Linked DNA regions of Homo sapiens: all the other regions are reported to be linked to region 3. Evidence: microRNA targets listed by miRTarBase, many of them from high-throughput screens and not tested one by one. Region 3 holds a microRNA gene; each other region holds the end of a gene's coding sequence.

Region 1 (11,172 bases), not on the chromosome of region 3:
CTGAAATTATTCTTAAGGGAGGTAAACGATATTGAGCACATCAAAAAATACTATATGCACTTACCTATGTTCAACTTCTAGATGCCATACATATCCTGAAGGATTTCAAAAATCTGACCTCCTAAAAGGACACAGCTTATTAAAGTTAATTCAGCTTGTGTTTTAGTACTTTGATGGTAGGAAGGACAGAGCTCCAAGAGTGGGGGAGGGCTGGGTTTCAGTGCCAGGTCTCAGGTTAGCAAAAAATCTTGGAGAACCTTAATCTCTCTGGGTCTGGCTCATACATCTGCAAAATAAGGTGTGCTGAACAAGACCACTGAAGTGTCTTCCAACTCAAAACCAGACTGAGAAATAGAACATAGATTAAGTCTTCAGCCTAAATCTTACAGCATAGTGACTGGTACAGCGTAGATGCTTGATGTACACTTAGTGAAAGAAAGGAAATTTTAAAAAAGTAAACTATTTAAATCAGAGCTTCCCACACATAAGCCCTGGTGTGCTGCTTGGCCTAGAAGTGGTTGTACGTGTGTGGAGATAAAGGTTCCCCCTCAGGACAGGCACTCATGACATAAACGAGCTTGGGAAGCACAACTTTTAAAATGTACTACTATTTCAGCAAAAAATAAAATAAATTTTCATTATTAGGATGAGGATAAGTTTCAGACTAAATTTATGAAAAGTTCTTACCACCCTTTATGTAGGAAAGACCGAATGCTTGGCTTATCATCTGGTCCTCAGGCCATCTTAAGACAGAAAACATAAGTAGCAGTTTACTTAAGCAAAGAGGACTTCTTTATGCAATGTATGAATAGAACACAGGTACTTCTTTAAGAGTAACCCCTGAAAAACAGAATACATTCAACATATAGTTCTCTACATACAGAAAACACACTGCAGCAACCATTCTCAAGAGATGAAATTTCTACTAAAGAACATTTCATAAAGTAACAACTGCAATTTCTGCTTCAGCATTTCTAGTAATATCTGCTTAACCTTTCTGATAGTCACCCAGGTTTTTTTTTTCTTGGTGTGAAAATCTGCATTATTTCTTATAATTACTACTACACCTAAGGCATAACAAAACATTTTTAAAGAAATAGATGATCTACAACATGGATGTAAAAGTACGGGGATTTTCTTTCAACAAGGTGCTCAATGGTACTTCCTGATGGGCTGCTTTTTTTCTTCAAGGTCCAAGGAATGAAGCACTGCATCTTTTGGATGCCTACATAGATTTATGGGTCATGACCTCCCTCCCCCATTCTCATGGCCAGCTGCTGCACCTTTGCCACACTGCAATTAAAAACCCGCAATCCAGATAACAAAACTACCTTGCCAACTGTGTTTCATTCCAAAGAGTGAGTCACCCTGAGAATGGCTGCTGGTCTCATCATGTCTGCAAGAAAATCCGCAGATGGGCGGGTTGTTTCTGAAGCATGCATTCAACAGGACGAGGAGCATTCTCAAAAGGAGTACACCATGAAAATCAGCATTAGAGGTAGCATGTGGCTATCAACAACCTGTAGGTCAAAGGGCCTTACAGGATTAAAAAAACCCAGCAAGGTTCATCATTGAAATGGTTATTGAGTTTCCAAACACCAAAAAAAAAAAAAAAAAAAAAAAAGGGCATCCTATCAAACTAAAACCTCATCTTGCATATATCTGAGAAGTATTTGAATTTTATAATTTTTCCCTCACCTTCGATGAAGGTGATGCTTGAGTGATACAGGTAAGAAGAGTGTAAAATTCATATCCAAGAAAGGAATGAATCAGGTACTGTAACACTAGAAATAGTATAAATCCTAAAAAATGATAACTTTTATCATCTGAACAATAGAGTTTTTTAGGTATAATAGTGGGAGAAAAAGATCAGTATTCTGTTGCTGGAGAGATTCTATTTTTGTTTGATCTTTTCACATACACTGACTGCCTGACACACCCCAAATAAATGTCTCTTTTAAAAGAGAGGAATGTCCCTACCAAGTTCTACGGAACTCCCCAAACCACACATAACCTATCATGGCAAGTAATTTTTAGTGTTGCAGTAGAAATGGGCAAGAAAAAAAGTTTTGCTGTTTAGGTATTTTTTAGACTTAACTAGTCATGGGCACAAACTCCTAAGTCTAGACTGAATATGACTTATTAATTCTCCAGAAATAATAGAGGTAGAGGCTTGCCTATGTCTTTGATCCCAGGGATGTCTTCTTGAATTGCCTCCCCGGGTATCTTTTAAAATCCCACCTACCCTTACTGATGCAGCTCAACTGCTGCCACTTCTGTGTGGCTCAGCATTCCCATCCCAGGAACAACCTTCTCCACGACTACATGCAACATTAGGAGTCTCCCCACTTCCTCCTCTTTTAATGCACTTTGTGTACAACACTTTACTGTAGTTACTTACAGATGTAATCTTCTAGAGCATGACAGGCTCCAGGAGAGCAGAAAGGCGTATGTCTTCCACACATTTATGTCTGCAGAAATAGACTGTTTTCTTGTATTTATAAGGTTGCTATAAGGTATTTATTTGAAAAAACACCTATGAGTGATTTTGAGGCTGAGTATTAACGTAGTCTTCACCCATATCTTTAGTTACTTAAACCAAAAGTAATGTTAATACTAAGTTTAAGATCCTAAGATAGTGGTGAGTCTTAAGGTAGGGTAAAACCCATCAAGCATACTTATAATATCCAGGGTACTTTACTATATTAGTACATTCAAAATCGTCACTCCATAGTTTATGTTTAGAGAGAGCAAGACTATCCAGCCAGATACCTCACGCCATCCAGTTATTCAGATCGACAGTGTCTTATCGTTTATTAGTAGCTTTGCGTTTTTTAAAGAGAGGATCTGGACAACTTGAGCATGGCAGCGTTCAAAGATTTGCAAAACTAAGTGATACCACTGTCAGACTGAAAATTAAACAATCAGCCAACAATTAGTCCAAGAAAGGAAAAGAAGCATCTGTAAGAGGAGTAGAACAGGTTTTACTTTTGTGAGTTGTAACTGCATTTATAAAAACTACAGCAAAGTAGCTTGACAGCTGCTCCTGGGCTCTCATAGCACTTAGGACGTTGCAGTCGTAACCTGCTGGCTTGTTAGTCCTCCCTTCCAGGTGGTATCCAAGAAGGTAAGAGCAGTATTTTGCTCACTTTTATAGACCCAGGGCACAGTATGGTAGATAGTTAACTATGTGCTGACCAACCAAAAAATCTTTATTTTTATGAGCCAGAATTCTAGAAAGGTTAATTTCAATAAGGTCCATCCTATATCCACAGGATGCCTGTAATAGTGGTGTAAATATTCAATCTTTGCAACTTGAAGGGAGATGGGCCTACTTTTGGAAATTTTCAGAGGAGGAGTGTGACTACTACTAGAAGTAGAAAAATATGGGCTATTAACTGCAATGACAGACTATAAATGCTCTTCATCCAATAATAATAAACTGTCACGATTTTATCAGTATTTGTTTGGTCCCACTGTTTGAGGTTCCACTATAATAGAGGCATAAAAAAGCTAAATGCCCCTCTTTTTTTCTTCTACCCAATAAAAGGTATATGGCCTATTGCTCCATAAGTAGGTTAATAGGCCTAGGTACTACAATTTCAACAAACTTATTAAAAAACACATTTTCTTTGTTCTAGGTAACGCTGTAAGCAAGCAGTTGTCAGTTTCCACTACAATTCATTTGTAAACCTCTTATAAAAAGTAGAAATCTTGCAATCTGTTTATCTTAAAAAAACAGAATGGTTAAATTGCTAACATTTTTTTCTCAGATTATAATAATGTAAAATGATGTTAACATTAAGAATTTCACGTAGGCCGCTCTAAAACTGAATTTCAATATTGTTCAGATAATTTCCAAGCACAGGTTAAAAAAAAAAAAAAAAAAAAGGGAGAAAGACGAAATTTCTCCTCAAATATACCAGTAGTTACTATACCAACTTCCTTTGCTGAGAATTTTTCCACTATCTGCTCAATTATAAAAGAACTGCTGACATGCAAACCAATCAAAATACCGATAAAACATGCAAGAGGAGAGAGGTGAGGGGAGGATGTTCCAACATCACAAAATTAGAGTATTAAATTCATATAATAAGAAGAGGGAGTATGGAGATTTAAGACTAATTGCATGTTGAAAAAAGGAAGTGTCTTGTCACTCAACTACGCTCTTGACTAGTAGGTTGTGAATTCAAGACAATTACTTTTAGAATGGCTTTTACCAAAAAAGCCGACAGATACAATAAAATTAAAATAAGTCATTTAGTATACTTTGTTTAAAAAAAAAGTGTTTCATTATTATACTCATTTGTCTGAAGTTCTATAGAAGTAGAATCCTTTCACAAAAGATCAGCAGGAAATCCTTTTAACCTTCACAGATCTGTTAAGGGTGTATACAAGAACTGAACTTCTATGCGAAATACGGGGTTGGCAGAGTTCATGGTTTGTAACGTGTGTGACACACAACAACACTAACTTAACAGAAACTGAATTTCTGATTTTAGGGAACAATCTCTTGACAATCTAGCATTTGTGCAAAAAAGTAACTTTCACACAGCAACACTTAATCCCATGAGGGAATTAAAGATTGCCAGTGGAAGCCGAGTAAGCTACTTTCCTCCTGTTTGGTTTTTAACTGACGTGTAAGGGTGATTATCTGTGCAAAAAGCTGAAGGTTGAATCCCAGCCATAAAATGGTGTCGATATCCGATTTCCCAAACTTTACAACTAGCAGATGAGAGTATGTTCTCCTGTGAGAATTACTCATTTAGCAGTATTTGAAAACTAATCAGAAGGTGTCATTCAGTCCAAAAATTTTCTGCACGTTCTACTTCAATTAACTTGCCTTTTGGAATTCTAAGAGGTAACACTGCTTTCCACTAAAACTCTCAGGGAACTTCTTTTAATTCAAGAAAGCAAGTCTGCTTATTAGACTGAGCACAGGTGCCCCCGAATTGTGTATAAAGACCTACTCACCACACTGTTCTTTCCCTTCAACTTTGTTTATTGATGTACTGAACATGAAAAAGTACAAAGAATCCAAACACAAAAGAAAACATGTACAGCCTCTTAAATACTCAACAGAATATATTTTCTATTCCAACAGATGTGAATTAAGTCATACTGTACAACTTCAAATAAATACCAGCCTTACATTTTATTAAGTGCTCTGATAAAACACTGTAAAGTGAAGCACAATTTGCATGCCCTCTCATCAATGCCTTGGTTTGCTACAGTAGTATAGGAAAGAAGCATGTAGCTGCTGTTTTCCCTTGAGGGAAACCTTATTATTTTTTTTTAAGTATATACATGTATTTTATTTTTTAGTGTTTTTCTTTTTTTAAACGCAGAAGGTTAACTCTGGCAATCTAAATGCACCTAAGGATATGAGAAAGTGCTAAGCCAATTGATTTCTGAATAGCATTGAGTGGGTCAGCATGAAAACTCGCTTATTCACTTTAGCACGCGCCTCACAGTATATGTACTGTACTATACTGAAAAATTTTATAACTACAATTTTAAATAATAAAAAATAAAACTCAAAGCAACCGCAAAGATAATGTACAACTATGTTATGCATAGCACATTGCCTGTTCTAAGGGGAAGCATGTGAGCATCTCAGTTTATACAAAAAGCAGGACGTAACTATATAGTTCTCAGTGCATCCTGATGAAGGCATTTTTGCCTTCAGCTTTTTTGAAAATTTATTATAAGCTAGATGCTAATCAGAAAATATTTTGTATTTTTTAAAATTTCTTTCATACATGGTAAAGACTTATTTTATTATTTCCCCAAATAGTGGTTTTTAAGCATCATACAAAGTTAAATTTCAATAGCATACAGATATTTATGATTTTTGTATGAAAAATGTAAGGAAATTTGTTCAAAACCTATGGTTATACTCATTTTTTTATACCACAAACATATTTATAAACCAAAATGTAGCATCACCATAAACAGCTGAAGCTAGACTATCTACAGACAAAATTTGCAACAAATCTGATGCACTGTAAATTCAAGTCCTCAGGACAACAAAAGTGATTAAGCAAGACCTCAAGTAACAATGTTAATGCCATTTACAAAGGAAAAAACTGATACAAAAACATTCAAAACCTGAACATCACTTGGCATGTAAGGGAAAAAAAATTAAATTAGCTGAAAGGTTCATAAACACAAGGTCTTATTTACATTACACAAAGCTCAGGTGTTAGCCTTGAACGTAACTTTCAAAATACCTTCAAATATATCCAACTCAGATCACTTTTGCTGATTTGCTGCAGTACAAATCATGTGCAACGTCTTTTTTCCTTAAGACAAAACAATTCTTCAAACAATACTGCAAGTACATCACTAAACACCATGAGCTCTATCTGAAGGGATTTCTTTAGGAAGAACAGATTTTTTCCCCCATCTCTCGGTAATTTAAATTTCTTGCCTGCTCTTATATATTCTTTTGTAAATTTTTTTTATTTGTTTCAAAATCACAAATCAATGTGAGCCACCTATCACATAATAACCAGGATGATCAGACGCTCCACTGGTGATTACAAAAATGAAACCAGCAGTGTTTCCCCCCATTGATTCTACTCCTTTCATACAAAGATCTCAAAAGTATTTTCTACACCATAAATCTTTCTAAATTTTCCAACCGCTGCAAATTTCCTGGTAAATTTTAAAAGCTCACTAGGTGTCATATGAAGAGATTTCTCAAAGTATTCAAGTCAAAATATTTGTTCCAGGACCAGTAAAAAGTTTCTCCAAATTTTCTTTTTTATAAAAATAGATGCTTTTTTTAAACCCACATCAAAGAGGCTCTTATCTCTTTGGCAAGGTACTGCTTTACGAAAAGTTCTCCAGTATTCTTACAATAAGCGTTTATAATGTAGCCCCCCCTTCCCCAACCCAAATCATAATTACAAAATAAATACTGTTTTAAACTTCATAAATAAAAATGTAAACTTCAAAATACTTTTCTTAAACAGACATAACAGCAATGCTTTAAATGTAAACCAAACACAAAGCTAATCAGAAAAAGGAAAAAAAGGGGGGAAAAAAAAGACACAACCAACTGAAGAATTACAACACAAAGCCTCAATATTTACTCACAGGTTCAAGGCAGTTATGTAAAAAGAAAAGAAATGTCTTCCCTTAGCTGAAACACTTTAAAAGGTCCACCTTCTTCAAAGAAGGCAATAGAATGCAATGTGACAGGTAAAAACCCTGTACCTCTTGTCCATATTCAAACATAAAAGATATTTAAGAAGTTTTAATTCAAATACTAGCAATAAAAAATCTCACATATTTCTTAGGATGCTAAGTAGTCATTTTATCCCCATCTCAACACTGACTTACAAAGACATTTACTAATGTATAAAGTTTCTCTTAACTTGCCTTTGTTGTATAGTTTTCATATATAAATGGACTGAGGACAAGAGCTCATTAGGCTTTGTGCGTTTTGTTTGTCTTAAAGGAGACCTGCAGTACTCTGTCTCCCAGACGGTATCCATTGAGGCTAGCTATCGCCATGGCAGCCTCATCATAGTTTGTCATAGTCACAAATCCAAAACCTTTGCATTTATTGGTGTTAAAGTCACGGATGACCTTCACATTGGTGACAGCTCCAAAAGGCCCAAACATTTGCCACAGGATACTCTCATCTGCGTCAGGAGCCAGGTTGTACACAAATATACACCACCCTGTTCCAGGGTGCCCAGGGATATTAATTCCAGCCAAACTGGTCATTCCGTCAATGGTCATTGGAGAAAACCTGCTAAACAGAATAGGAAATACACACATACACACAAAAAATAAAAACAGAGGTTGGTTATAGCAATGAACGTATACCTTTTCCATCCCCAAGAATTTTAGTAACTCTCCTCCCCCAACAAATATATAAACTATTTCATGTTTTGACCAAGGTCTGTGTGTGGCTTTGCAGTGACATGCTAGACTACTGAGATATTAATAAGTTATGAAATGACCATTATTCACTGTACTGAATATCATCCACAATAGCAAAGAAATATATTTAGAACTGGCTTCATGAATTAAGCAGGATTGGCAGGGGAAGGGATCAACACATACGTAAACATGCTGTAACGTCGTAACGCAATACGAAACAAATGATGGGTTTTTAAAAGACCAGGTGGCATCCGGTGGTATAAAAATTTCTTGAGTCAATTGTGCTTCAAAGAGCAGCTTTTCATTAGGTTGCACATGCAAAATAAAACCCAACAAAAACTTATGAGGGGTGTGAATAGCACTCCCAAAATCAAAGAAACCAATCAACTGTGGAAAGGGATTATGAGTATCATGAACCTCTATCATTACCTCTTTACTCCATAAGCCATATTGAGCAGATTGTCCAACCTGCAAAACACACATTTAGCAAACTTCAGTTTTTAATTTTTCCCCTTGATGTTCAAGAAAGTTGGGCTCATTACTGCCATCTTCCGAGGGGATATCTGTACACTGATTATATGTGAAGACTCAGAATGCTGGGTCTTTTTACGTTTTTAAGCTAATGGGCACCGACTGCCACAGGACAGTTCTTCCAATGAATGGTTTCTCTCTACAAGGGTCAGTACATGGGACACAGTGACGGTCATCTGAGGATACCTTTCAGAGAGGAAGTGCGAAAGCTCTGGGATAGTTAACTTTAGGGTTCTCATCAGGTAGCTTCAAAGTGATCAATGTATAGCTACATGTTCTTTATACTACTTTTGATTTTCACAACTCTGTTGGTGCCTGCAGATACCTAAGGCACACAGGGTTTAAGTGGCTTGCTCAAGACCACAGGGCTAGTAAATTATGGCATTGATACTCAAACTCTGCAGGTTACAGAATTCTATACATTTTCCTTTCATTTCCCAACTTTGAAGGGCTTTCATCTTTTAGAATCAAGGAGGTATAATTACAGGTAGAAAAAACCTTATGGACAACCCAAGCTAACCCTCCCATTTCTCAAATGTGCTCAGCTGAGGTCTAGAGAAGGAAAAAAGAAAAATCCATCACTCCAGTGTGCAACAAAGCCAAGAGTTCAGATCCTGATCTGGATGCTGTATTCAAATTACGCTACAGGAAGTGTCGTCCTACTCAGTTTTCAAAGGCCAGGTAGGAAACAAAACAAGCCAATCTGAGCCTCACTTAAAATGTTTATAGAAAGTAAATAGGGGTGGGGGTGGAGGTGTAAGTACTCTTTAAAACCTTCTACATTTTTCCTATATCAAATATTAGTTTTACAGCATTTGACTCTTCTTTATCAGTTTCAAAACACCACTCTAATGTCCCAAATTTCCACAGTGCTTACCAACTAATTATGTGTTCTGAGGAGGAGGCATAACTTAATACATAGTCCACAACCACCCTCAACTGCTACAATGCTCAACACTCTCCAAAGACATCCCAGGGTTGTCCCTCTGGGACTGGGGGTGGGGGTGAGAATTTTTTCTTTAACACCCGTGAAAGGTAAGTTTGAAAAGTCTCAGCCTTATCACCTAACCTGTGGCATCAAGTCACGCTAAAGTATACATGCAAAAGCCAACACCTTTTAGTTTTGTAAAAGCCAAAACACATCTCATCTGGTCTTTCAGAATGGGGAAATATATAGCCTCCCACATCCCTGCCCTCAGTCTCCACTGAAAATTCTGTTTTGTAAAGATGAGAAGAACTGAGCTTATGCAAAGTGTAAGGAAACAGAACAGATCACAATGACAAAAGATCTTCGTGTGTGAGTGTGTCTCTGTGTGCGTGGTGCGTGTGTGTGTGTGCGTGCCTTGACCCACCACCCTCTCATTGCACCACTGAGCACAAGCCAGGGTCACTGATAGTTTATAATAAATATGTGATGACCAAATAAAGACAATGAGGTTACCAAAATTATGGTCAACTTAGTCCAGAATGAAAACTAGTAAGAGGATTGGTTGGATGACCTTGTCTGCACATAAGTAAAAAGATGTGGGGTTTTATTTTTTGCAGAGGTGAGTACAGTCAAAGATGCCATGCCTTTATAGTCAAGAATAAGGATCACAACTACCAGCAATAAAGACAAACACATATTAGCACCACCAATCATAAAGTAACAATACAATTTTATCAAATTGCTGGAATGATCAACACAGAATGCATTTGGCATATGCTACCTGTAGAAGAGAACCGCATACTGAGGTCTCCAACCAAAGTGCTAGAAGACCCAGAATGCAGAGGCACCTTATCAATTCACTCAAAAGTTACATCATCTATGCCCATTAATTGCATCCATGTAGGGACAGGTCATGCTTTGCTACCACCCACTCAGGACACCAAGCATACGGCCCAGAGACAGATGAGTTTTCAGAATTTTCAAACAGGGTAGAAACCAAATCTGCCCCTGAAGTGAATTACCGTCAGGCCTTTTTTAACAATGGGGATATGTTCTGAAAATGTGTCACTAGGTGATCTCGTTGTTGTACGATCATAGAATGCACTTATACAAACCTAGATGGTAATAGCCTACCACACACCTAGTTATATGGTATGGGCTATGGCTCCCAGTCTACAAACCTGTATAACATGTCACTGTACTGAATACTGTAGGTAATTCTAACACAATGCTAAGTATTGTGTATTTAACCATATCTAAACATAGAAAAGGTAATGCATTGCACAATATTAGGATGACTATGATATCACTAGACAATAGGAATTTTTTGCAGTCTACTATATTATGGTACCACGGTCGTACATGTGATTAACTGAAACGTTATGTGATGCATGACTGTACATGCAGTGAGGGAGAAACATTTCGTTTTCCATCCTCCATCTCCCTCACTTCCATCTCTGGCATCCCCAGACAGGAGGTTTCGAATTTTTTATAACAGGATCTCCGAGGACCCTCCAAATTATGATAGGGCATCTTTTTTACCCTATCTGTGAAGTTTTACATGATACCATGATCTTCACTGATTCCTTCACTTCTCTCTCATTTTAGAAAAAAATTGGTCCTTTGGAACTAAGCCAAGTTATCCACTCTAATCTTTCTTCTCCTCCATCACCAACGAGTGTAGGGAGAAGCATGGAACCTAGAAAACAGTGCCCAGGCACTGCTGAAGCCCCCTGACTGTATGCATCTGAGCCCAGAAGTATTTCCTAGCTTTCTCGGTGCCATAGATTCATGTTTCCCATGGGAGCTCAGAA
Region 2 (11,172 bases), not on the chromosome of region 3:
GGATGGAAGAACATGTCTAACCCATCAAAATTATTTGTTAAAAAGTGGGTTTTTGGTCGAGAACCCATTTGGAAAACCTTCCAACTCAGAGCATATTCTATGACCTTCATGATGAGTACTGGGAAAATCAGACTTAAAATTCCAACAACTTTGAATAATTTACAAAAACAGTCACAAAAACACCAGAATATCAAGTTTGAAGGGAAAATTAGTCTCCTGTCCTTCAAAACAAGGACAAGAGCTATTTCCTATCTTTCTTTCAGCATCAACAGGCTTTGTAGGAATGGAAAAGTACATTTAAAGGGTTGTCCTGAGAAGGCCAAGTCCCTTAACCTTTCTATTCTTGTTAGAGGAGGTACAGTGTGGCTGAGGCGGAGAGCAACCACACTTTGCAACTCTCCAGGCCTGGCACTCTGAAGGGCAAAGAAATGCCAGAGAATATGGGGGAAGCCCAGACCTCCACATTCCCTTAAGGAATTCTGGTGGTGGCAGCACCAGAAACAAGGTAGTCGAGAGAAGGATAAATTCCAAATATACTAGAAACAGAAGGTAACCATTAAATCTTGTTGGCAGATAAAAGTCTTTTTTTGAGTATGTGAATGTGTTCTTACAGGGAAAATGTGTTTTCAGGGTGAACAGTTCCTTTATATGAAGGTAGCATTGTGTCAACAAGAAAACGTGTTTGAAGCAGTCTCTTTACTAGCATTGAAGGATTTATACTAACCTAACCACATGCCTTGACCCAGTTCCTTTGGTAACCAATGGCACGTCATAGCAGATACCCTGTGGCCATAGAGCTCAGTAAACACTGCCTGTTGTACCTCAGGGGCTAAAGCCCAGGGCCTGGCTTCATAGTCTGCACAGGGTCTTACTTATCATAGAGCCTAACGTAGGGTTTTGTTATAATTCCCTCAAACTGGATCATGCCTCTTTTTATTTTGGTTTCACACATAAAATTAAGCAAGAAGTCAAAACATACTTCTTTTTCTTGCTCTGATGTAGGACTGTGTGCCAGGTTAGGCACGTTGACACTTTCAATATGGGTAACTCCATATTAGTCTATTTTGAGGCTCCAAATTATGTAGATTTCAGCAAGAACTCACATGCTTCAGGGAAGAGAAGGAGTTCCTAAAATACCTGACAACTTGGCAACTATCCTCACCAGCTCCCTATTCACTTCCAAAGCAACCCAAAGTGCTGAATCATTTAGGATGGGTTTCCCCTGGAAACTCCATCTGATTGACATAGTGAGGGCCATCAGAATGCTCCCTACAGAATTAAAATCTGAAGACTTAAATGTCAGGCTGGATATTCCTTAATGAAATACATCACACAACACCAGAAGTTTACTTTTCCTCATACCAAAAACTGAAAGAACGGTTACAGGGAGTATCAAAGATATGATTCTTGCCAAAAACAGAAAACGAAGACTTGGAGCATTGAGAAGAAGCCTTCTCACATATAGTTAGTAAACAGAAAGCAAAATATCCCTTCACAAGAACTTGGAAATGCAGCAGCAATTGAAACGTAAAATTTTAGAACCAAACTGGGGAAATCAAGAGACGTACATCAAACTAATAATTACCATGACCTTCTAGCTCACATAACAAAATTAAGCATTTGGTTCCACCATATATTAGGTAGCTGCATTAAAACCCACGACTGGGAAATGAGGGACCTCATGGAAGCCAAAAATGGCCAGCTGTGCCTCTCAGGCCAATGAGGCAATTAAATGAGTGAGTTTTCTCACTGGGGATAAAATTATTCTTGCCAACACAAAATGTTTAATTAAGTTGGCCTGGGTATATTAGGGATTAAGTTAGAGGAGGGAAGCTGCAAACCTGCGCTCCATTTTACAACCCTGAGTCTGGTCATATCCAGTGTAGGCTGGCAGGCGTCTTATTCTCCTTGAGACTAAAACAGGGGTTTTACTCTCTCAGGTAGCCATGATTCATTAATATGTCCTCAGTGTGTAGCTATACTTTTCTTGTGCCCAGGTACTTATTGTCACTCAATACTGTGATTAAATCCTTTCTGCAAAAAAGTGGGTTTTCAGCTCAGGAAAAGAGCAACTTATTTTAAGTTATTTACATCTCTAAACATCATGCTCCCATTTGAACAGATAAAAGTCTTTATTCCCCTGTATGTTTACATAAGAAAGTTCTTTACAGACTTTTTTTTATACAATACTTGTGCAGCAATGTTCAAATTTCACGTTTTTACTGCATAAGATATCTTCATGTACAACTGTATGCTTTGTCTTCTTGGGAAGGACGCGTTAAAGACCTATGATAAACACACATCCACATGACAAAGGAGAGTGCAATAGGGCAGAGTAGAATACTCACAGGAAAAGAGTAAATTCAGGTCACTACATCAAAGTGTGAACCAAGAACGTGTCTTTAATTCTAGCAACTACCACCATTTGGTAACTTCTTTGCATAGGTTAGCATTACCCAAGGAGCCTCCCTATCCCGTATTAGTGAAAGGAAATCTGGGAGAAGCAAAAGAGGTTTCTTGTTATAGATTTCCTAGCACTCATTCTGATTTAAGAAATCTAAGCACATCCAACTTCAGAAACATTACTAATGTGGAAAAAGAAAAGGCTGACTTTGTGTTGATAAAATTATAGCCTTTAGAGAGGAATAAAGATAGCTTTGCAGTATCTGGAGTGTTTCAGGAAAGCTTCCATTCTAAATATTCATGTGATAGTTTTTCTGTTCTGCCAGGCAGCCTCTAATTTGCTTAACCCGGCACACTGGGCAATCCTGTCATTTTCATCCCAAAGCTCAAAGTTAGTGGCTATGGGAGCCTGATAATCTTGCAGACAGAGAAGGTTAAGGACTCTGGGAAATCACAGAAAAACCTTATCAAGAGAGACTTTATTTTGGCCCAAGGTATCTATAGCATGTATTTATTTAGCTGAGTGCAGATCCCTCCACATCATAGGCTGTCAGCCCCAAAGATCCCTTCATTCCCACAGCACTGCTGAAGGCAGAACTGTTCCTAACCTGGGGAAGGTTATATTGGTTGATCAATTATCTGTCAGGAGAGTAGGAAATAAGTAATCAAAACAACCAAAAGTATTAATAATAAAACAAATATTACATCTTGAGAAAGTAGTTCGTTTCTTGGGTTTGTTTTTCCACAAGTATTAGCAATCCAAGTTGTGTAATTCTAATTCAGGAAGAGCGAAGTCCAATATCAAATAACACTGAACAAAGTGACAACTTCTTTCAGAGGTGTTTTAATACCCATATCTTTCAATGTTTTAAACCATTCTAAAGACTAAGGAATCACAGAAGTTTCCTTATTCAGAAAATTACAGAAATTAAGTCTTAATCATGTTCACTTTCTATTATAAGGTCCTCTCTGAGAATTTTTTGTGGATTATCCTTTTTACTGTCTTCAACAGTAACCACTCTTCATCTTACAGGGTTGAATTTGCTTTCTGGAAATGGCTAAATGTTACTCAGAACCAAGAGTAGTAGAAAAAGTAGACAAAGAAAGAATATACTTCCAGGTGCTTTCTCAAAGTGATACTAATTAAATAATATAGCTGATTTTCTTATACCTTATTACCTTCCTTGATATTATTTCTAAGGAGAGGAGTTTCAAAAATAACTTTAAGGATGGCAGCATCATTAGAATAAGTATTAACTTCTTAAGTAAAACTAGATGACATTGAGGGGAACAACACTTAATTAGATGTCAAAATTCTGATATGTCTGCTAAAGAAATCATTAATTATAATAATTATAATCATACTTAGAAGTGTCCACTTAAGCCTTATCTCCTCTGAGGTATGTATTTTTGAAAACATTGGGACTCATTTGAATGTTGTAAAGGGAAAAATCAATTTGTCATGTTTTCTGCTATAGTTACTCCTCTTACATAGCTGGAATAAAAGCAAATCAGAAACATATGCTTATAGTATTTGCCCGTTTTAAACTGGTAGATGCCTGATTATACATTTAAAAAGAAATCTTCTGATACCATTTTATTAGAATAGGTAGGTGTGTGTCCACGCATGTGTTTCTGTAATACTTAAAAAGGAAAATCTCTAAGATTATGATTTAGGCTTCTATTCAGATAATCAAGAAAGAGCAAGTTAGTAAAAGCCCATTATAATTCTTTAAAATGTAAACACTGCTACCGTAATAGCAGGAACTACAGAAGATAACTGAAGAACATCAGGATTATATAAATCCTTCATAGCCCTTCTCAATATAATAATATATACTTAGGACCCTATACTTCTATAATCTTAAAGACCATCTAGTCCAAACCCATCGTATAACTCTAAGGAACAGCAACTCTGAGAGGTGAAGTGCCTGCTGAAGGTCACTCAGCCAGTGGCTGGCAAGGGCCAGGATGAGATCCCAGGTGGCCTGTCCTGCCCAGGCCTCTTCTCCCCCGACCCTGTTCAATCCAGCTCAGGTCCCACACCTGTAAAATGAAGAGGATGGTGGACTAGAGGATGGTCTCAAAGGTCCCTTTGTAGCTCAGGCTATGATTCCACAGGTACCAGGACACTATGCTCAACTCAAATAAACTCTTTCAGCTCAGGGATGATGCTCTAAACCAAGGAAGGCTCCGTTTACCAAAGCACTCATATGTGTTCCTTAACAGAAAAATAGTTCTCCCCTTTGAGGAGGCCTTACTCTAAATAAGCCCAAGACAATTTCTTGTCATTATCTCCCTTAGGCTTCTACTGCCGTCTCTGGCTTCTAGTCTGCTCATTTTCATTAACTGCCTCCATTAAGCTTTACTGAGCCAAATGACTAGATAATATATTTCAATGTAATTATGGGTAATATATGAAAAGAACAATTTAGAGATACCTAATTTCTAAACTGTACTCTTCATAGTTTCAATTAAATTGAGAAACTAGATATTTCATTATATTTCTAACATGTATATACGAAAAAAATCAAATATGAAAACATAGAACTCAAACATTATTCTTATTTAAAAATAAACATTTCCTTCATTAATTTATACATTCTTTCTATGTCCAGGAAAGAGAATACAATTCTGACCTGCAGCAATTTTCCTGTCCATAAAGGGGTAAACCAAGTCCTATTTTCACTGCTATCCAACCACAGAGAGCCCTTCGTGGATATCTTTTGCTTTTTAATCCTCGGCAGGAAGCTTGTGCCTCTCTCAGTTTTGGAAATGGTCTGTTATTCAACTAGAGGCCTTTACCTAGCTCATCTTGTTTCAGCCAGCACGGGAAGTATTTAAAGACAGAAGGAAGGCTGGAAGATTCAGACTTTTCCTCCAATGCCTTTCAAAGGCTACTCGCACATTCCTAGGGTCAAACCTTGCCCTCCAGAATGCAGTGTTTTATAGGCTGTTGTTGCTGTTAAACTTTTTTCCCCCATAAAGTGCAAATGTGAGGAAGAAGAAACAAAAGTACTAGATAGCAAAACAAGCAAATGGACTTGGAATTTTATTTGTACAGATCTGATTAACTAAGAGTTTCCCTTTTGATGATGGACAATGGCACTAGAGGAAAAGAACAGGAGTGGGGTTCTCTGTGCCCACTTCTTTTCAAAAGGGTGATTTTATAAAAGTGCTTTCCACATAAGGAAATAAAATACACTTTAATGAGTAAGTACATATAGAGAGGGTGACCATGAGGCATGTTGTCATGTTAGTGCAGGGGCCTTTATTTATTTTATGAACAATATCCTAAAGTTAATAAAGAACTATGCTTTATTATTTTTTTTTAATCTAGGAAGCCAAGGAAAACCAGCTGAACATATTCCATTGGCTGCAGCCTTCAATTTAAACATCAGAAAGAAAGGTAAGCTGGGCACACCCAGATTGTGTCCAGCTTGTCAGCACACTTATTTCTGATTATCTGAAAATAAACAACATGCTTATTCTAGAGACAGAGGACCTGCTGAAAGCTTATAGCACACAAGTCTATTCAAAATGATTCCATATGTTACACTGTAGGATTGTTGTGTAGTTATACAAGGGAAAGAAATCAAAACCCTGTACAGACACCTGATATCAGACTTGAAATGCCAAGTGGAAACAGAACTATTCAGCATCTTCATTTATACACAATTTACAATATTTGATTCAAAATAAAAATCACAAGAAAAATACATCTGTTTCTGCTACAATTCCTTCCCCTCCCCATCCTCCCCCCACCCCCGCCCCAGTGAAAAGTCTTCTAATAAAAGGTATCATATTACCACCGTCTTGTTTTGGTCTAATTCTGAGATCCCACTTGGAACAGTTAACATGAAAAGGAATGGCAATACTTGGGATTTATATAACGTACACATTGTATCCAAGGATCTCAAATACTTGCAGTCACGTCTCCAGATCTGAGAAATCACGGTTCAATGGAAGCCAGAAAGCTGGACGAATGCTGGGCAGGTTGCATGGGGTGTAAAATCCCTTGGCTAAGTCTATGATCAAACAAGGTCAAAGTTGGTTGGCTAGAGCTGGGCTCAATTTCTCTTCTCAAATATATACTACCAGTCAGTAAGTTTTACCCTTTCTTAAACCACACACCCATCTCCAGGCTACTGCCTAGAGTTAAGACCAACTGAAGTAGCCATGTCCTCATGATAATGCATCAGGATAAAAAGCAAAAACAGGGAAATACATTCATCAGCATCTGGCCAAAGGAGACGGGGGTTGGGAGAATTGATCTGGGAGGCCATTCCTAGCAAGAACGAGACAAAAGTGTCAATTCACTAGTTTCAGTTACAGTTAAGCTTTTGGTGGAGTTGATTCCAGCAGAGGTGAAGCTCATGGCATCTAGTGCTTGATTTAAGATAATGCTATTGAAGAAGGGTAATGAGAAAACACAGCAAACTAACAAGGAGGAACTGGCCAAGGAATATCTGGAGGGCCAAAGTGATTTTCTTTCCTTATCATTTCTACAGGAGAAGGCAAGGGGTAGGAGAAAAGGGCTGGAGGGCCCCTTATTTGCAGATTTTTTTAAAAAAATCATTTTTTTCATAACTCCGTAATGAAAATGTATTTTACGGTATGAAGGTTACAGAACTGCATCTGCTACTGGGTCACGGCTACAGGTCTATGAGCTGATCCACCAGCAGTAAAGACCTGGCTAGGTTGGGAAGACTGGACTCAGAGCTCCCACTGCTGTTTCTAGAGTGCCCACCTGGAAGTGGAGAGATAGGAATTCAGTACAAAACATAGAGGGTTAAGGTTTAGATGTGCAGAGCAAGCAAAGAAGAAAAACCAAACCAAAACCAAAACCAAAACAAAAAAAAACCAAAAAAACCAAACCCTAGAGAAGCAATATTTTACATTTGCAAACCCTTACACGTTGATTTTGAAACATGTAAGTTAGCTGTCCACCACCTCCCACCAAAAGCTCAGGCACTCTGTGCACACCACAGTATAGGTAGGACATCTTGCAAAGAGGGCACTATTTTCAAATCAATACTTTTTTTGGTTGAGAATTGCTGGCTATATACCAACTTCCTGATAATATCAAGCCATCTCCCTTTGATAAAGTAAAAATCAATAATTTTTGCTTTGGGGAGAAACTAGTTATTAAGATACTGCAATAAGAACATGCTTTAAAAAATAAATAGATGGTCCCATGGTAATTTAGTGTTTTATGGCATGTTCACATGATTTTCCTCCATCAAAGTTGAAAAAGGATGCTCCATTAATGTCAAAAAGATGTGAATGATACCAAAACACAGCTGTTAATCTCTTTGGGAAAAATATTTATTATGGATTATTCTAATCATGATAAAAAATGTGATGTGCTTTTGATATATACCTTCAGGTTTCCACTGACTAAAGATCATTTTGCTTTTGGCTTCATGGTAAAAACTAACTTTTGGCCAACTGTTAAAGACTTCTCTCTAAATAAACACCACGGTCAAACTTTAAAGATACCTATCTCTATCTATCTCTATTGGTCCAGCCTACAATGATTCTCATTACACCCAATGTCCTTCATTAAATGTTGATGCTTTTCTTCCCCCTTGCAGATTAGGTGCATGACTATTTTGAAGAGAACTGAGGCCAAGCTCTTCTCTTTTCCCCATCCTTTTTCTTACCTTGTGGGTTTTTGGTTATCAATACAGGAATAGGGTCAAACTCATCTTCAGCCACCTTGTCCGAGCCCTCAGGGACATCAAAACCTGAGATGAGATTACTATCTTCTGCAGCTTAATACAGAATGCAAGTACACAAGCAGAAACAACAGAGGCAGAGATTAGCAAATGAGAGAATGTGAAAGAGGCACAAAGATCTCAACTGTACAGCCCTGTTATTTTCAAAGGTGAAAGGATTTATCTTTCTGAGTTGAAATAAAAATAGCAAAACTGGAAAATACAGAGATATAGAAAAAAATGCTTTAGAGTTGGCCATGTTGACTTTTATAATGATTAGGGAAAAGGGTTCTTGGAAGAATTCTATTATTTATAAGACATTAATTATAATTATTGTGAGGTATCTCTTCATTGTCACTAATCCACAAAGGCATAGGAATAAGTCACTTGTCTTCACTGAGGGAACAGAGGCCAAACAATATTTGAAAAACTCAAAACCGGGGCTTGGGGGCAGGGCAGGGGAGGAGGAAGAGAATTGGTGGCTCTTTAAGAAGTAACCACTGTATATAATGCAAACAAAATACTGCTGGAAGGACTCACTGCACTGTGACTGGGAAAAAAAGACACTGAAACAACTCAGAAGCCTCAGGGAACGCTGAGGCACAAGATCACACGCACTGAGGCCTCAAGTAGAAGTTTGTTAGAATAGTCTTCTCCATTCTAATTAAAGCTACCCTAACAGCAAGCAAGTGCTGGCTGAGCACTTATTTTGCAAATGATGCTTCTCTGTAATTCTACATTGCTGCTGACATACTCCTGCCAGACATCACTGTCTAAATAGGTAACTTCCCTCTACATAATCTATAAAAACATAATCATTTTAATGTCATCACGGGTAAAAACAAAAACTCAGCTATTACCATTGCAAACCACAGAGGTGATTATTTTTAGTCATTCTGGGGAGGCTTCCTTCTTGAATTTTCTCCTGAAGGGACTTAAGCTCTTTCTTTTCTACACATTTTCTCTTTCCAGAAGACTACTTTCACTACCCAATCACAGAAAGTTCAGTAACAAAGTAAGCCAGGCATTGAGCCTGACACTGTCACAAACTGCTCATTGAATAGAATCTGATTCAAGCTACCTCTGTCCAGGATTTCAGACCACTATTAACCCAAGACTGAAAAATGAAAATAGTAGATTAGAAAGAGAAATCCAGTAACCAATCATGACTTGAAGGTGAACTAAAATTCAAAACTTCTACAAGTTCAACCTTGCAAGGACTGACTTTTGAGGAAAGATGCTTATTTCTTTATTGCAGTCATCACTATGCAATAACTTTGAATCAGATATGATAAAACCATTTTACATTCTAAGGCCAACAAGCATCATATGATCATTATAGGCAGGCAGTAGATAGTCACTTCAACCATCTACTTGAATTGACTGCAAAGGTATCTAGCTCTTAAAGGTAACATGGAATATCTGCATTCTATGTTCTTGCCAGAAAGCAATACTTTCACCAATCTGTTGTCTAGGGCTTTTTTCAGATTTAATTTTATTTATTTTTAGTACCTGTCTGCTATTTTTTTTGTTTTTTTAGACAGAGTCTTGCTCTGCTGCCCAGGCTGGAGTGCAGTGGTGCGATCATGGCTCACTGCAGCTTTGCCCTCCGGGCCTCAAGCAATCATCCCACCTCAGTCTCCCGAGAAGCTGGTACCACCGGTGCATGCTGCCATGGCTGGCTAATTAAAAAATTTTTTTGTAGAGACTGAGACTCCGTATGTTGTCCAGGCTGGTCTCAAATTCCTAGGCTCAAGTGATCCTCCCACCTCAGCCTCCCAAAGTGCTGGGATTGCAGGCCTGAGCTACCACAACTGGCCGGTCGTCTAAGTCTTAGTAAATATTCTCACTGAGAGGTATTATAACACAGTATCTAGGAGATACTCAAGTTTTCCATACAAGGAGGTAGTTTTAAAACTTCACTAGTAAAGACTTTTGATAAGAAAAACTTTCAAAAGTTGTTTAGTTCTTTCCCCTCTAAGGACACATGTGGGCCTGAGAAGAAGAAAGCATTTACCTTTATGGACTGGAGCAGAGATTGCTGTGGGGGCAAACTCTTCCAGAAGGTCAGTAGTAGGGTTAGAGAGCAGAGAGCAATCAAGCAGGGAATCTTCCCCGGTGAGAGAATCTGAGTCCAGATTAACAGCATCCCAGGTCAGTGATGGCATTAAGTGGCACACACAACAATATCATGAGATTAGATCTTAGCTTTTAAGTTACTGCATTTACACGTTACACATAAAAGCCAAAGCGGGAGAATAAAAACCAAAAGAAATGTGTGGAGCCTTCTGGATTTTCATCTGTATCATGAGATTAGATCTTAGCTTTTAAGTTACTGCATTTACACGTTACACATACAAGCCAAAGTGGGAGAATGAAAACCAAAAGAAATGTGTGGAGGCTTCTGGATTTTCATCTATAGAAACATGTCTTTCTAGATTCCTCTTAACATTAACATAGAAATAGAGGATAATTTTTTGCTCAGAGGTTGCTGGTTAAATAGGTCTGTGATTTGGATGCTGAGCTAACTTTAGCACCTCAGTTCTTAGTGAATGCCATTTGGGAGAAAAAACTTTACAATTAGAGTTTCACTTAAACTTTCCCTAAACACTCATAGAAGGAAGTTACTATAGGACAAAGTATCCAAACTGATTAGGAGAGGGTTGCCTCTGGCTTATTATTAGCAGAATGTGACAAGATTAAACAGTACCTTCTAGAACTCAACCAGGTTCCCACCCACAATGCCTCTAGCTAGTATTCTTTACATTGAAATTGGCCCTTTGAACATGATTTTGACTTCAGAAAACCAAGACAAAAACTCAGAGTTTAAGTTTCTTTTTGAGACGGAGTCTCGCTCCAGCTCCCAGGCTGGAGTGCAGTGGGACGACCTTGGCTCACCGCAACCTCTGCCTTCTGGGTTCAAGCGATTCTCCTGCCTCAGCCTCTTGAGTAGCTGGGATTACAGGCATGCGCTACCACAACCGGCTAATTTTGTATTTTTAGTGGAGACGGCGTTTCTCCATGTTGGTCAGGCTGGTCTCAAACTCCC
Region 3 (7,097 bases):
AAGCCGGGGCCACCAGCTTAGCCCACACCTGCAACGCAAGTAGAGAGATGGGACTGTCAGGAGTCTGCCCAACTCTAAAGAGCAGCACAGCCCAGCACCCTCTCAAAAGAAAGATCCTTAACAATGTGAGGCAAGCACCTATAAAGATCTCGGGGATCTGCTGGCTTAGTCTACAACCATCCTTTCCAAGCCCAGTCCCTAGGGACCAGAGGGTCAGAACCTCAGCTCCCTGGGACCAAGAAAGTCTAGCCCAATTCTTAGGCATATGAAGGGCAAGGCCTCCCTCCATTCGGAGTAGAAGACTTCAACCAGGAGTATGGGCACATTCCCATAATGCTAGGCCACTAGGAAGTTTCCCAGAGTGTCTGGCTCCTGTTGTTCTCTACCCAGGAAGATGATATAAAAAGTACAGATTGCCCCACAGGTCACCAGGCAATTGCCCAACTGCCCGCTGGGGTGGTACCAGCAGAACTCCCCCCATGCCTGCTCCATCAGACAATCGCTGATATAGTTCATTCGGGTCTTAAGAGGTGAGGATCACAGCTCAGTCTTCTCCCAGGATCCTGGGAAGCTCCTGATTTTCCCTCAAGCCTACGGCAAAGGGATTCAGAACCTCCTATTCCACTGGCTTCCGATTATCTCCAAGAGAGCCTGTCCTCCGATAGAAGGGGAAGCCCCTCCAACCTGCAGGTATCCTCCCCAGCCTCACCATTGCTCCCACCCCACACTGGCGGCTTCCAAACTTTCCCTCTCACAACAAGGCGCCCTGTCACCCAGACTGCTTCCCTCAGCTTGAGGAGGAGGGGAAGGCGCACGAAGTAGGAAGGAACTTGGGGAGAGGGCGGGCGGAGGGTGGGCGAAGCACTGAGGGGAGGGCGGTGAGGAAGGCAGAAGTCTGGCAGTGAGAGGGAGAAGCGGCGGGGGCAGGTGAGGGCGGGGGAGTGGGGATGGGGCCGGGGAAAGGGGCCGAGAGGACGCGGAGGGGGCAGAGGGTAGGGACGGGAGGGGGAGGGGCAGGGTGGGGGGGGCCGGGCCCCGCACTCACCGCGGCCCATGGTTCGGCCGGCCCCGCCCTGCGCAGTCGCGGCCCAGAGGGTGAGTGGGAGGGGGTGGGAGGAGGGTCGGTGGAGCCCGAGCCTCCGGTACGGCCCCGGCCGGTCCTAGCAGGAAGCGCCGCTGCCGCCGCCGCGGATCACCGAGCGGCCTCCCGCGCATGCGCCATGGGGGCCAGGGGCAGCCCTGGGGATTCCGTTCCCAGAAGGCACTGCGCAGGCTGCTGCCGCTGCCGCCGCCGCCGTCGCTGCCGCAGCCGCCGCCGCAGGAGCCGCCGCCTCCGCCGCTGCCCGGACGGGAGAGGGGCGGGGCCGGGCCCCCGCCCAGCGGACAGCGACGAGCCAACTGGAGGGGCTGCAGTGCGCATGCGGGAGCGCGCCTACCCCTCCCCCACAACCCCCCATTAATCCCCAAGAGAACAAACACCCCACGCGGCCCCCCCGCCCTCCGCGGAAGGATCTGCGCCTCTTCCCAGGCCACTGGTGGCCAATCCCAGCCCTCCTCAGGGAGGGGCCCCTTCCAAAGCCACAGTCTGTTGCGGGAACCAGGAATGCCAGGTCCGGGAGGGGCCAGGCCCCGAAAGATGAAAGTCGCGACTTGCCCTGCCCCGCCCCAAAGGCTTCCCGGGTAGTGTGCTGGGACTTGACCCGCCTCCCCAGGTCAACATGTCACAACACGACCTCAGCCTGTCAAGTCACATGACCTCTGCCTGTCACTGACAACCTGGTCTGTCTTTAGGCCAGGGGAGACCATCTGGTCCACCCTCCACACTACCCCCATTTTCAGAGAGGAAATGGAGGTGTGGAGCAGCGGAGCAGCCTAACCAAAGACCTGTCATTGCCACACCACTCCAGTCACAACCGGCCTTGTGACAGTTTCTACTTAAACTCTGGCTGCCCCCATGAGGGTATGACAGGATATGTAACAGGCCACCACATGGCCTCTGTTTTCAAGGCACAAGAAAAATACTTTGCATTCTGGGTGGTGCGTTTTACTTTTGGTCAAGTTGCCTCCAAGTTCATGGTTCTCATTTTACCTTCACAACTTTTATCTTTAATTTACAAACAAGGACGGTAAGATCCCTTGGCAAGTGATGGGGAGTTGAGTCTAAAATCGCGGCTCCGGTCTCCCCAGTCCAGGGCAGTCCTGCGCTGAAGTGCACTCACACGTCCCGGGATGAGACTCCGCTGTAAATCTCGACCCGAACACCTAGGAGGCAGGCCTGTGCCGCGCTCCTCACACAGGGAGTCACAGGACTTGCTGTCTGGTACAGCAAGAGAGGGTCTTGGAGAAAGCCATAGGAGTACCGTGGGGGAAAATAGGTGGCCAAACAGAATCGGGTCCACTGGGCAAAATACATGACTTCTGGCAGGCTGAGGGCTTACCAACTACAAGGTAAAAGTCAAGGGCGCTGTTCTGAGAGAAGCGGAAAATGACTACCAAGGGATTCCAGTACCTCGGCCCCTTTTGGGAGATTTACGGGGCTAGAACAGGAGACCACCCCCGTTTTTTTGTTTGTTTGTTTTGTTTTTTGTTTTTGGTGAAACGTAGTCTCGCTCTGTCACCCAGGCTGGAGTGCAGTGGCGCGATCTCGGTCACTGCAACATCCGCCTCCAGGGTTCAAGCGATTCTTCTGCCTCTGCCTCCAGAGTAGCTGGGATTACAGGCGCGCATCACCACACCCGGCTAATTTTTGTATTTTTAGTAGAGACGGGGTTTCACCATGTTGGTCAGGCTGATCTCGAACTCCTGACCTCAAGTGATCCGCTCTCCTCAGCCTCCCAAAGTGCTGGGATTACAGGCGTAAGCCACTGAGCCCGGCCAGGAGACCTCTTTAAGAAGACTCGAGATGTCGACAATCCCAGTGGATGGATACCAACTTTAAAAAGAAAAGTTCAAAAGGCCTATGTGCCCATTAGCTGGGAGGGGCCAAGAAATATGGGAGTCCCTTATAGTGGGGGTAAAACGGCGGGTAAAGCTAGGTGGGCGGAACAGCAGCTTCTGGGGGAGACAAGCGGCAAAGAGGCTCACGACCGACTAGGGGCGACCAAGGCTGATAGCCGTTGGGGCCGTTGGGCGCCGGGAGCTGGCGCCCCGCCCTCTCTCCTCTCCCCCACCCTCCGCACCTCCCACCACCCTCGGTGTCCCCTGCGCGTGCGCGTGCAGACACCGGTTGCCAAACATTGCATCATCCCCGCCCCCCTTTCCTCCCCTCCCCCCCCGCTACACTCCCCTCCGCGCGCGCGCATGACTCACCCACCTCCTCCGTGAAGCCTCGTGACCCAAAGCCACTTCCGGGTCCGACACTACGTCGACCCCCTAGCGAGAGGGAGCGACGGGGGCGGTGCCGCGGGGCTCCTGAGTGGCGGATGCGAGGGACGGGGCGGGGCCAATGCCGGCGTGCCACTTTCTGATTGGTAGGTTTTGGGGTCCCGCCCCTGAGAGGAGGGCAAGGCCATGGTAAAAGATTACAGCCAGGCGCTCCCGAGGTCAGAGACTTAAGTCTAAGGCACTGAGCGTATCATGTTAAAGATGAGCGGGTGGCAGCGACAGAGCCAAAATCAGAGCTGGAACCTGAGGAGAGAGGCGAGTACTGATTCCCATCTACCTTTTACCCTCCCGTCTCCTCAAAGTTGGGGCGTCCGCTCTTTAGGATCGGCCTCACTCCTCCACAGTGAAGTTAGGGACCGTCCGAGAGAGGAATGGGGAGAGTCCCTTATTCTGGGGTGGTGCTTACAAACCCCTATTGCTTCGGACGACGGCGTCTCTCCACCCCTGCCCGGAGCCGGAACACGGGCCCTGCTCTGTGCTGCTGGGCAAAGGGACCTCGGTTGCCCTTGGGAAATTCATTCTTTCCCGTAGCCAACTTCAGGCCTCATCGTTAGGCCTGTCCGCGGGGAGGCAGGTCAGCAGGACACACCCCCGCTCTAAGACTGGGTGACCATCGCTCAGGCCGTTTCCGCCGCTTCGCCACCAGCGGGCCTTCTCCCTACCCCACCCCCAATTCTGTCTCAGTCTCAGTGCCTCTGGTGTCAGCATGGCCACCTTGGTAGCTGGGGCTACTGGACCCTGCAGCGGATAGGGGAACCTTGAGGAGACACAAGCCTTTGGGAGGGGTGCCGATGGACAGGGAGTGGTGTGTTTTCCTTTTGCCGTAGAGGTCTCTGGGCCTCCTGCACAAGAGAGCAGCCTGGATCTCTTAAGTGTAGGAGGCCATTTGGGGTCTCCCCAGGGTATTGTCCTTCCCTCGGGATTAGTCCCTGCCTCTTTAACCCGGTCCTGTCTCCCAGCTAATCTCTGTGTAACCATTGCATCAGGCCAGCCCCGTTTGGCTCTGCAGCCTTCTGACCTGAGGCTCTACTGCTGATGAAAGCCAAGTCCCACACACTGGAAGGCAAGGGAGGGTTCCCCAGGGAGGACAGCCCTGCAGAGAAATACTTCGGGCAATATTGCATCTCTAGCCCCTAGGGATCAGCAGCTGCCACTCTGCTTCTGCCCCTTCCCTATAAGAGAGACTGGGGGGAGTTTATCCATTCATTCTTAACAAATACTTAATGAGGACCTACTGTGTGCCACACAGTTTGGGGCTCAGGGTACATCCTTGAGCAAGAGGAAAAAATCATCTCAGTGGGAGGCCTACAGTAAACAAAATATAAGTGCCACGGAGAAAGCTAAAGCAGAGAAAGGAATGGAGAATGTTCAGGATGGAGGTCAGAGTGTTACATCAGGTGGTCAGGAATTACCTTAGGTAATTCCTCCACTCAAAACCCTTCAGTGACTTCCATGACATGAAATAGGAAGTCATTGGAGGGTTTGAGCAGAGGAATGACCTGTTTTAAAAGGCTCACTCAGGCTGCTGTATGGTGAATAGAGTTGCGGAGGGGTGGCAAGAGAAGAAATGGGAAGACCTTCTGCAGTCAGAAAGTTTCTGCAGTAATTTAGAGATGGTAGTGAATTGATCTAGATTGGAAACAATGGAATTAGAAGTGTTTAGATTCTTCTAAGCAAAGGTTTTAAAAACTCATTTTTAAAGAATGAGTTAAGGGCCGGGCATGGTGGCTCACACCTGTAATCCCAGCACTTTGGGAGACCAGAGGTGGGTGGATCACCTGAGGTCAGGAGTTCAAGACCAGCCTGGCCAACATGGTGAAATCCCATCTTTACTAAAAATACAAAAATTAGCCGGGCATGGCAGTGCATGCCTGTAATCCCAGCTACTCCGGAGGCTGAAGCAGGAGAATCGCTTGAACCCAGCAGGCGGAGGTTGCAGTGAGCCGATTGCGCCACTGCCTTCCAGCCTGGGCAAAAAGAGTGAGACCCGTCTCAGAAAAAAAGGAATGAGTTAAAATTTGCTAGTACTTTGGATTGCAGGGTGTGAGAGAAGAGGAATGAAGGATGATACCAAGGTTTTTAGCTTAAGCAACTAGAGTTGTCATCTGAGATGGGGATGACCTTGGAAGGGGAAAATCAGCAAGAGTTTGCCTTTGCACATAGTCTTAGGTGCCTATTAGACATTGAAAAAGAAATGGCAAGTAGGCAGTAGACAGCAGAGTCTGAAGTTCTGGAAGAGGTCCAGACTGGAAATGTACATTTGGAGGATGTCAGCCCTGTGGGAATGGAGTTAGGAAAATGCTATGATTTGTTCCCTTCCCTGTAGTTTAGTTTTTACCCTGGCAGATTTGAGGCCTGCTTTGGATTTAGAGAAAGCTGAGTTGGCCAGGACTTTACTATTATGTAACCAGGACTACAAATGTCAGCAACTAAAAATAAAGAAAGTCAGGCCCTCTTCTGCCCTTCGAAATGGCTACAGGGACCAAGTATGCATACCCCACAAGACCAGAAGTAAGGAAGGACCAGTAGGAGGCTGGAGGTAAAAGAAAAATAAGGGCCCAGCACGGTAGCTCATGCCTATAATCCCAGCACTTTGGGAAGCGATGGATCACAAGGTTAAGAGATGGAGACCATCCTGGCCAACATAGTGAAACCCTATCTCTGCTAAAAACACAAAAATTAGCTGGGCGTGGTGGCACGCGCCTGTAGTCCCAGCTACTCGGGAGGCCGAGGCAGAAGAATCACTTGAACCGAGGAGGCAGAGGTTGCAGTGAGCCGAGATCGCACCACTGCACTTCAGCCTGGCAACAGAGCAAGACTTGGTCTCAAAAAAAAAAAAAGAAAGAAAAAAAGAAAAAGAAAAGTAAGTTGCCTCTCCCCCTTCCAAAAATGGCTGACATTTCTCTTTGTTGCCCACAGTGTTCAAGAAGGAAGTGTATCTTCATACATCACCACACCTGAAAGCAGGTAAACTTAACCTACCCTTTTCCAAAAATTTTAAACGGCAGGACAGTAAATATTTTAGATGTTAAAAGTCCTATAGTCTCTAGCGTGACTCTTCATCTCTGCCACTGTAGCACCAAAGCAGCCATAAACAATATGTAAATAAACAGATGTGGCTGTATTCCAGTACAACTTTACCTACAAAAACAGGCATCAGACCAGCTTGCCAACTTGTGGCATAGACTGTTTGCTACATGGAGCTTGTTCCAGCCACTCCCCATTATCCTGCAGATGTGCTTTTCCAGACTGATCCAACTGCAGAGATGGCAGCTGAGTCATTGCCTTTCTCCTTCGGGACACTGTCCAGCTGGGAGCTGGAAGCCTGGTATGAGGACCTGCAAGAGGTCCTGTCTTCAGATGAAAATGGGGGTACCTATGTTTCACCTCCTGGAAATGAAGAGGTAAGAATGTTAGCCCTAAAGCTAAAGGGGGATGTTACCTTTCCCTTCTCAACTAATATCTATGTTCCCTTTCCTCATTTCCTTGAAGGAAGAATCAAAAATCTTCACCACTCTTGACCCTGCTTCTCTGGCTTGGCTGACTGAGGAGGAGCCAGAACCAGCAGAGGTCACAAGCACCTCCCAGAGCCCTCACTCTCCAGATTCCAGTCAGAGCTCCCTGGCTCAGGAGGAAGAGGAGGAAGACCAAGGGAGAACCAGGAAACGGAAACAGAGTGGTCATTCCCCAGCCCGGGCTGGAAAGCAGCGCAT

What was found. The annotated mature microRNA hsa-miR-616-5p reads ACUCAAAACCCUUCAGUGACUU and lies in region 3 at 4,813-4,834, shown strand. An mRNA with a match to its seed (bases 2 to 7 or 8) in the 3' UTR can be bound and repressed. Matches are read on the target gene's strand: a 7mer-m8 pairs with bases 2 to 8, a 7mer-A1 pairs with bases 2 to 7 and ends in A, and an 8mer does both.
Region 1: the mRNA of ELAVL2 is a reported target of hsa-miR-616-5p. Seed matches in the 3' UTR shown: 7mer-A1 at 6,704-6,710 and 8mer at 6,602-6,609.
Region 2: the mRNA of AAK1 is a reported target of hsa-miR-616-5p. Seed matches in the 3' UTR shown: 7mer-A1 at 6,485-6,491, 7mer-A1 at 6,318-6,324, 7mer-A1 at 4,485-4,491 and 7mer-A1 at 3,530-3,536.

What each region holds. Positions count from the first base shown.
Region 1 is chr9:23,685,120-23,696,291 of GRCh38, forward strand. It overlaps ELAVL2 (ELAV like RNA binding protein 2), which reads right to left. Exons shown (of 7, transcript NM_004432.5): 6 at 8,329-8,367; 7 at 4,985-7,765. The coding sequence ends at 7,438. Among named protein-coding and RNA genes, the nearest start is that of ELAVL2, 140 kb to the right of the region's middle.
Region 2 is chr2:69,468,811-69,479,982 of GRCh38, forward strand. It overlaps AAK1 (AP2 associated kinase 1), which reads right to left. Exons shown (of 22, transcript NM_014911.5): 20 at 10,141-10,251; 21 at 8,070-8,180; 22 at 1-7,153. The coding sequence ends at 7,059. Among named protein-coding and RNA genes, the nearest start is that of NFU1, 37 kb to the left of the region's middle.
Region 3 is chr12:57,516,960-57,524,056 of GRCh38, reverse strand. It overlaps MIR616 (microRNA 616), which reads left to right and starts at 4,798; the gene lies at 4,798-4,894. DDIT3 (DNA damage inducible transcript 3) reads left to right here and starts at 3,543. Exons shown (of 4, transcript NM_004083.6): 1 at 3,543-3,639; 2 at 6,304-6,351; 3 at 6,619-6,788; 4 at 6,877-7,097. The coding sequence starts at 6,651. It overlaps LOC128125814, which reads left to right and starts at 3,577. Exons shown (of 2, transcript NM_001414991.1): 1 at 3,577-3,639; 2 at 6,304-6,345. The coding sequence starts at 3,577. The coding sequence ends at 6,345. It overlaps MBD6 (methyl-CpG binding domain protein 6), which reads right to left and starts at 1,233. Exons shown (of 13, transcript NM_052897.4): 1 at 1,046-1,233; 2 at 1-28. RefSeq lists silencers at 1,002-1,401, 3,116-3,575 and enhancers at 1,662-1,801, 865-1,824, 1,922-1,991, 2,082-2,191, 1,825-2,785 and 4 more.